2 linked regions of the Homo sapiens genome follow. The protein of the gene in region 2 purifies or fractionates together with the protein of the main gene of each other region. This does not show direct contact. Each region holds a gene or a part of one and is shown on either strand. Other genes may lie near its edges.

Region 1 (3,500 bases), on a different chromosome or scaffold from region 2:
AGCAGCTGGTTAATAAAGTGGAATATATTGTCATTTTATAATGTGTGTTTGTGACTAGTGGGGAATATCAGGGCCATTCACATAGTGGGAAAATGACTTGTATAGGCTAGGGAAATGGAAACCCCTAGAACTCTGTCATTTGGACTCACAGTGGGAGAAGACTATTGACATTTGTGCACATAAAGAATAAAATGTGGCCAACTTGGAGGAGGTGGGGTTGCTTTTGAAATGGGATTTAGAGAAAAGAGTCTTGAGACACCATGGAGTTGTGATCTGGTCACTAGAGATAAGCCTCTGTTACAGGCAGGAACATTTCACTAGGCTTTCCCAGAGCACAGGTGAAATTGGTCCCTAAAAACCTCCCCCATGGCGTCAATGCTTACGAAGGAACCTCATGCACTCTGGTCACTGGGAAGTGATATGCCCATTTTGATAAACAGGCATCTGGTTTATTGTCTCGGTCTATGGACAAACTTAATGAGTGGGACATTATCCAGCTGAGCACCAGACCTTCAAGCCCTGAGGTGTTGTCTCTGGAAGACCACATCTGGGTTATAAGCCAACCCAACCCCATCTGCCTCCCCTCACACAAGGATGGACACCTTATATTTTGAGCTGCCTGATAATAATTCCTTTAACTTTTTATGATTAAGAGAATATAAGTAAATAGTTTAAAAAGTCAAATAGTTCTACTACATGTCTCACAAAAACAGCAGTTCCCTGCCCGACTCCTTCCCGTTTCTGAGTCCCATTCACGAAAGGCAACCACTCTTAACTCTTTTTAAAAGTCTTCTTGCCCCCATGTTTTTATTATGTTTGCTCTGATATGTCCTACCTTTTTTCCATTCCATCATTTTCTTTCAACTTCGTACCCTAGAAGTTGGAGATTGAGCTCTTTTACACCACTCCCCTCACACCCACCATGTTCTTCCAAAATAGTTATATCACAAGTTTTAGTTAAATCCAAGTTTGCAGTAGTATGGCTATATAAATATTGTTCACAGCTGAGGAACACAGTATACTATGATTCTTTCTTGTACAACATTTACAAAAATTTTCCCGGAGGTTAATAATTGCTTCATTTGGGGATTAATAAATGCATTATCACTCATCCCGAAATTTCCAACAAAACCATTAAACTTCTTTCAATTGATTCAAACATATCAGATGATATATCAGTTTCTTGTGATTTTTCCCTCAGAGACATGCCATGTGAAGCCCTCCATTCTCTTCCCCCATCATGACCTGGTTGCTCTCCTAAGCCTGCTGCTCTACCGTCATGCTTCAGCTTTCCCATTTTATAGATGATGAGGCTTTGCAAGTTCCTTCAAGATCCTGCTCAAATAGCACTTTGTTGGTAAAGCCATCCCAGTTCTATAAGCATAATTTTCCTCCCTTGGTGCTCTATAGACCCTGTTCAGACTTCTATTATAGGATTTAGCATGTTTTAGTTGTGTTTGTCCCTCTAGCTGAACTGTGAGCTCCTTGAGTATAGGACATACATCTTCTTTATCTCTGTATCTTTATCACCTAGGACAGTCCCTGGAACACAGTAGATATTCAATAAATATTTGAGGAAGGAAGGAAGAAAGAAGGGATGTGGGAGGGAGAGAGGAAGGCAGTGCTGGACATCATTGGAAAAAAGACTAGAAAGGAAGCAATGCTCAAGTCCAAATCCTACATATCTCTACATCTGCAGTATGATTGTACCTCTGAGAAGGCAAAAAGATATTGAGGGAATTCTAAAGAAAGATAACAGAAATGATGCAGGAAATATAGCTGAAAGTGATATGAGAATAAAGGAGCAAACTTCAGGAGAAATAAAAGGAAGAAAGTTCAGGTGCATAGGAAGAGCAAAAACCCACTGGAACTTGCCATCCCTGGATATGGCATATATTAAAATCACAAATTCAAAGTAAGTTTGAAAAAAGATCCTAAGTGTTATTAAGTGATCCTTGAGATGTTTGGTGAGATATTCCTTGTGAGGAGTTGCCCCTGGGTCAGCTCAATTGGACAATTCCAGGAGTCTTAAATCTTACACTCAGAGAGTGAGTAAGCACCTTCGAATAGGAAAATTGAGGTTTAGAGGCATCCTGGCTCTGCCAGTTACTAACTGGATGACCTTGGGCAAGTCATTTACTTCCCTGAGCTTCAGTGTTCTTTTCAGCAAAATGAGGCCGACAATAGTCTGCCTCCCTAGATAGGGGTGGTTGGGAGGAAAGAGTGAGATAATACTCAGCATAATTCATGCTCCACAAATAGTAGCTACCGTGATTGTGGGTACGAGTGTTATTATTATAATACTATTATTATTAGTGGCAGATCTTTGCAAGGTATATGTTTGTCAGAGCTACAGTGTCACCTGGATTTACCAACAGCATCACAAAGAGAAATTCAGCCTGCTGTTATCAGAAAGGCTTCTTTTTTAGTATTGAATAGTAATACCTACCTTCTAGCGATTTTGTGAAGCAAACAAATTGCTTTTTGTAAAGGATTTAGGGCAGCATATGGCATATATTATTATGTGAGCATTAGATATTAGGATGGTCATTCATCATATCAGCCTGTATATAAAGCACACAAATCTCCAGAGAAGCAGGAAGCACTAACTGGGGATCCTAACTAATTTATTTGTCTGACAGGCCCAGACTACTTGATTTAAGGAGAAACCGTTAAAGTTGTATGGTCAACTCACGTGAAGAAGTGAGATCGATTTCGCAGGAACTATTGCCAAGTCTGTTGATGGCAGTACACTGGTAATAACCTTGTTCAAAATTTGTCAGATTTCCAATGACCAAAATCCCGGTGGTTGGGTCTGTTGAAACCAGGGAATAGACTTTTGAGATCTCTTCTGTGCATACAGATAACATCAGTGTAACAGATCACTCAATGTCCACCCACTCCCCCATATTGGCCTCTCTTTCTTGAGATGTTCAGGATTCAACTAGGCCCCTCAGGACTGTTCCAGTGCTAACTCACCTGGGACCATGCCTGTTCCCTACATATTCACCATCTCTGAGCTGGCTTTTAGAATTTGGGGAGTAGACCAGAACACAATCATCGTGTTGGGAGACAGGCATTCTTTTTACATTACCAGCCGCCCCCCTCCACCCGCCACCACTGAGAAAACAAGAAGATTGAACTGTAAGGTCAAGCAGCCAACCACACACTCCTGCTGTCATCCAACCACAGACACCAGGCCTTTCCAGGGTCTACTGCAGGTTACACTTACTGAAGTTTTCTTTCACTGGCACGATGTCTCTTCCCTCAAGTTTATGCCAGTAGTACACAGGGGAAGGTGTTCCAAGCGCAGAGAGACAGGAAAGGGAAATAGTGTGGCCAGTTTCTGGTCTTCCTTGAACGCTACAAAGGGGCTTAGAAGGTTTCACTGTAAGGCAATGACAAAGAATAAAAATTCTTTAGGATGAATGGCATTCTGTGACAATTGCAGTCACTTCCTCACTTTCATTTTGAATAATATGTGTGTTTATTTATTTTTA
Region 2 (5,756 bases):
GCTGCTAATTTGGAGTGACTCACACCATGGGTGATGCTGTAAGCGCCTCCAGGTCCCACATGCTGCAGACAGCACTCAAAATGGTCGAACAAATCCAAACTCTGGCTTCAAACCTAATTGTTTTCCTGGGGGACCCAATGGCTCTTCCTCACTCAGGTCTTTGCAATCTGCATGTCCAGTTTTTAAACAAAGCTGTTTAGAATCTCCCAGGATTAAGACAAGTGGAAAATTGCAAGCCCAGACCTCTACCTCATTTTCTCTAAAACAAAACATGTCATCCTGCATGTTCACACACCCGGAAAGACACAGTTCATTCAAACTCAGCTGGGCACCCTGCCCCTCTGAGCCCTCCTGTAGAGCCTGGCCCTGAGACGGGGCTGGGGACTTGCTGAGGCAGGATCTTCTCCTACTGTCCCTGGCACTGCCACCCTCAGGGCTTGTCGGAGAGCTTTGGGCCCCTAAGCCTCAGTCTCCACACTGGCAGGTGGCCAGGGGAGAGGCCGTCAGCAGGGTTCCCAGGTACCGTGTCCAGGTTTTACCCTGCCATCTAAGGGGAAGGCACTCACATCACAGGTATATACTGACATTTTTTTTTTTCCAAGATGGAGTCTTGGCTCTGTTGCCCAGGCTGGAGTGCAGTGGCCAATATTGGCTCACTGCAACCTCCGCCTCCCAGATTCAAGCAATTCTCCTGCCTCAGCCTCCCGAGTATCTGGTATTACAGGTGCGCACCACCAAGCCCGGCTAATTTTTGTATTTTTAGTAGAGATGGGGTTTCACCATGTTGGCCAAGCTGATCTCGAACTCTCGACCTCATGATTTGCCTGCCTTGGCTTTCCAAAGCGCTGGCATTACAGGTGTGAGTCACCATGCCCGGACCCTTTTCTTCTTGAGACAGGGTCTCACTCTGTCACCCAGCCCGGAGTGCAGTGGTACGATCATGGCTCACTACAGCCTCAACTTTCTGGGCTTAAGCAATCCTCCTGCCTCAGCCTCCTGAGTAGCTGGGACTACAGGCACACACTGATTACCACACCTGACTAATTTTTTTTTCTATTCTTATTAGAGACGAGGTCTCACTATGTTGTCCAGGCTGGTCTCAAGCAATGCTCCCGCCTTGGCCTCCGAAAGTGCTGGGCCTACAGATGACAGCCACTGTGTCTGGCCTATACTGATCTATTGAGAGTGCACACGTGGGCCCCTCCACTGAGTGCCAAAACAATGCAGAGTGCCCTCCCACACAAACCCATGCAAGCACACCCAACACACATGTAAGGCAAGTGTGCACATAGTCACTAACACCCACACATGTGCATGGCTGCACCCTGTTTCAATCTTGCTCTGAGAATCCCTCCCACCCCAGCTCACTTCCCTCACCTGTTCACTGTCCTCAGAGGCCCTCTCCCTGACTCTGAACCTGACACATTCCCCACATTGCAAGGGGAGGGACCAGACTGTGTGTGTTTCCAGCAACATGTGCACCCCATGATTGGAGGCGGCGTGCCTCCAAGTGTGCGCACAGCCAGGGTCACTGCCCACGAGGGCTCAAGGGGGTTGCCTCAGACACAGTTGGACCTTGTTCCAGCTGTACAATAATATATTCACTTTAATTTTTGCTTGTAACCTGAAGAAGGGCCATTTTTCAAATTTCGCACAAACGTGCTGTGAGAGTTAGCAGCAATCCTAAGCTACTAAGGCCAAGGCCAAGGCCTCACCAAGATCCTGTACCCCAAAGGCCACAAGACCCTCCAGCCTTCCTGCAATAACAGCAAAGCCTCTCCAGCAGGTGGGAGGATTTCAGGGGGCACTTACTGAGCTTCCTGACTCTTCGGACCCCCTGGACTGCTCTCTACCAGATCTTTTCCTGTTCCTAACACAAGATCAGATGTTCTAAAAATGATGACCATTGAGAGTAGAAATGGTCACAAGACTCTCAGAAAGTGAGTGAATATTCAAAGTATCATCAATTTCCAGCCATCCACTGTGAGGGAGCCTGAGAGAAAACAGAGGGCGGAAGGGGTGTGGTAAATCAAAGCACAGATAATACTAAACAATAGGCCAAAAAAAAAAAAAAATCTACATTTGGCTCCAAAGTATCGGGTTGAAATGCAGATAGGATCGTGCTCCCAACTCCAGATGCCAGCAAAGGGGTTCTTCTATCTCCTTCCCATTCTGAAGAGCACCCTCCTGGTTCAGGCTAAAATTCTGGTTACACTTTTGGTTTGAGAGCAAGGAGAGAGTTTGGAAGCTAACCTGCTCCAGGCAGATATTCTCATTTCGTTATGCTGTGGCTATGATTGAAGTTGAAATGATTAACATGCAGGGCTGGAGTCCAGCAATGGAGGCTTACTCCTCACTGCCTCAGGCACGGGCACGAAGAAGAGAGTTTAAACCAAATCAACAGCAGAGCCGTCTACACAGGACAGAAGTCAGGCAGTAGGACCCCGCCACTCGCCACTCACGGGGCAGGGGACCATCTCCGCAAACAACTTCCACCCCCAGTCCGCTCCTATCAGAAGTCAGCATCTCCAGTTTACTCATTAACTTCACTCTTTCCTCCTCCATCCACCTCCAGGTCAGAGGCCGGGAAGGCACTAGTCAGAGGCAGAAGGCAGGCCCAGGACTGGAAGCCAAAACCCAGGCATACCAACTCATCCCACCTCAGAAACCACCTCCAGCAGAGCCAGAAAGAACCTTGGCAGTGGGTCACCCAACCTGCCGCTTTGTAGGTGAGGAAAATGGCCTGAAGAAGCCAATCGACTTGCCCAAGTTCGCACAGCAGTTACAGGTAGGAGCAGGAGCCAGGACAAGAACCTCCCACCCCAGAGCTGGTCAACATCCCAGAGCATGGCTCCAGAGCATGACGAGAAATGCAAAACCAAAGCCCCCTGGAGCCACAGCCATCAGAGAGGATCAACGTCCTGTCTGCTGAGGCCTCCACTCACATCTCCCTCACTTGGGTTTCAACGCAGATGCACAGAGGAAAGACGGTCATCTAGATAGACACGGCTGGTGACGTCAGGGGCTATCTGTGTCTCCCCAAGGCCATACAGGCCTCCTGGGGAGCCCTTCACCAAGTTCTGTCTGGCAGGGCCCACCAGGAACAGGCCCCACGGGATGTGGGGGACATGCCGCACAGCAGGACGGTCATTCCCTTGTCCTTAAGTCCTTCCCTCTCTGCCGCCCGGTCTTTTTTTTTTTTTAATAGGGACAAAGTTTCACTATATTGCCCAGTCTAGTCTTGAACTCCTGCCTCAGCCTCCCAAAGCACAGGGATTCCAGGCGTGAGCCACTGCACCTGGACGGTTACTGCCTGATCTTCACCAGACTGATTTTCCTCCACCCAAGCCCATGTGCCTAGCGGCACTGCACCATCCAGTGATACGCGGTGCCTCAAATCCCAGAGCTGCAAGAATGAAAGCAGACACCCATCCGGGCCCCAGGGAGGCGGGAGGAGGACTTAAAATGGGAGCTCAGGCATTCCTGCCACAAGCAGGCTCAGGGAGGGACCTGGAGCGGATTCCCAGAGTCAGTTAAGAACAGCCGCAGGTCTGCATTAGAAAAGGCAGGCGCTGCAGGGTCATAGCATCTGGGCTGGAGCCCCTGCTCCGGCTAACACTATGTGGGCCTTACCTGCTGCCGCTGGTAAAGGAGGAGGACATGACAGCTACCCCACGGGGCCTTTGTGAAAGTTAAATGAGATTTAAATTATAACTTCATCTGATTAAGTTAAATTGGTTGTGGACATTTGTAAAGGGTCTAAAACTGAGTCTGATCATGATGACAAATATGAATACTGGCATCCTAAGTATAACGTGCAAGGCATGGCAGGACAATAAGAGGTTCCTGGCCACTCTTGGGACACCAAATAATCCCTGCTGGAACTCACAGACAAGAGAATCTTTGGCAAGATGAGCCACCAGCCAGCACCATTCCACCCCCTCTCCCTGCTCCACCGACTACACCATTGGGTTCAGGGAAGGTAAGATTTTACAAATCACCCAGCAGGGAGAAGCCGCAGGAGAAAACACACATAAATTAAACATAAAAAGGCCCAGGTCAGTAAACAGCACCCCAAGGGAACCTGAATCAGCACCGTCCACCCCCACTGTCTGGCTGCCTGGTCTGTAGTCTGGCACAGCGGAGGCCTCGATGCACAAGTGCTAGGAACAATGAACAAACCATCAGCAAGACCCCCAGGAGCCTGGAGGATCAGGGAAGAGGGCCCCGTAGGGGTCCTGGTGGAGGGCGGTGGGCAGAGCAAAATGGAGACACTAAGGACTGGCCAGGACTCCTGCATCTTCTCTTCTGGCCTGTTGTGGGAGGCCCCTCCACCCTGGCTCCCAAGCCTGCTGGGAGGAGACAGGAAGCAGGAAGTTACAGGCCTCTCCCTAGGCTTCCTCCACACAAATGGGGTGGCCAAGAAAGAATCTAAGAGTACCATCAGCCACCAATCAGAAACAGTGGGGAGGAGATCATTCTTGCCTGGCCCCCAAAGCCCAATTTAAGGAGCTTAGAAAATCAAAGCCAGGAGTCAGGGCACGACAACTAGAAAATGTCAGCATCCTCTTCTATCCTGCCCAACCCACAGTTAAAGGGCAAGAAAGACCTTGACTTCAGACAGAGGTTATAACACACAGACGTTCAGAGGCCCTACCCCACAATGGACCCGGACCAACACTGACCTGTTCTCTCTGAACTTCCTGGAAACACCTTGGCTGCTGACAAACAAAAGAAGGTTCCAGGATATTCCTGCAGGAAGGCAAAAAATTAGGTCATCACTTTGGTAAGAAGCCACTCCAGGGTGAATTCTGTCCATCAAGGACCACTCTTTGGGGCAGCAGTCCCCTACCAAGAAACTGCTCACTCAACAAATGGAGAAAGCCAGAAATGGCAAACAGGAAGGCAGTGTGCTAATGCCACTCAGTTGGCGGTGGGTACCCAAGGCATTATGAGCAGAACCCAAGCCCTGGCCCAGCAGAAAAGACAGCTGCGATTGATTAGTGATGTCTGCCACGGGCAGTTACAGAAGTAACAGAATCCTCACCATGTATTTGTCATCCCTGGGGTAGACCTTTGTCATCCAAGGATTTAATATTACAATTTTGGCCACTCACAAGTGACCCAAAGTTTCAAGATATGTAAAAGTGTGTAAACTCACTGAGATGTGTTTGCATCGCGTACGCTATGAGGTCAATATAAAGGAAAGGGCCACCTTGTTGTTTTCATCTCTACCACATTCAAAGTTACTCTTATGGAGCAATAAAAACTTGGTGGAAAATGGCCATCAAGTGAGAAATAAAACTGCAGCAGAAACTGAAAGGGCAGTTAACTTGGGGTGTGAGGATATATACAGGAAACATTTGACTCTGCAGAAACATGACTCCGGAGAAAGCCAGGCCCATGAACAAATATTGCTGTGGATACAAATTTGGGATGCCAGAAAGTGCAAGCTTCATTTCTTGAGATCGTGAGGGGTCCACTGTGCCTACTCTGTTCTGTGCCTCACAGCAGTGATTTCAGGGTCAAGGAGAACATCAGAGGGAATTAGAATCCATGCCCTGAAGGGGCTTGCAATCTAGTTGACGAAACAATGCCTACCGGAAACAGCAAATGGCATTGCATTTTCACAATCACCCAGCACAGAATCAGCTTCAATCCCCCTTCAACTTCATCCTTTCCTCACCTCCCCATCCAATCAAGTTACAAATGATCCTGATCCTACTTCCAAAATGTCTCAGGTTCATTGCCTCCTC

What was found. Proteins that work in one complex are often made in the same cells at the same time.
Region 1: the proteins of TSPAN9 (region 2) and VSIG1 purify together in Homo sapiens (co-immunoprecipitation; one large-scale study listed by IntAct). This does not show direct contact.

What each region holds. Positions count from the first base shown.
Region 1 is NC_000023.11:108,072,565-108,076,064, reverse strand, and holds part of VSIG1 (V-set and immunoglobulin domain-containing protein 1 isoform 2 precursor), read right to left. Parts: intron 3,389-3,500; coding exon 3,233-3,388; intron 2,816-3,232; coding exon 2,696-2,815; intron 1-2,695.
Region 2 is NC_000012.12:3,082,649-3,088,404, reverse strand, and holds part of TSPAN9 (tetraspanin-9), read right to left. Parts: intron 4,753-5,756; 5' UTR 4,686-4,752; intron 1-4,685.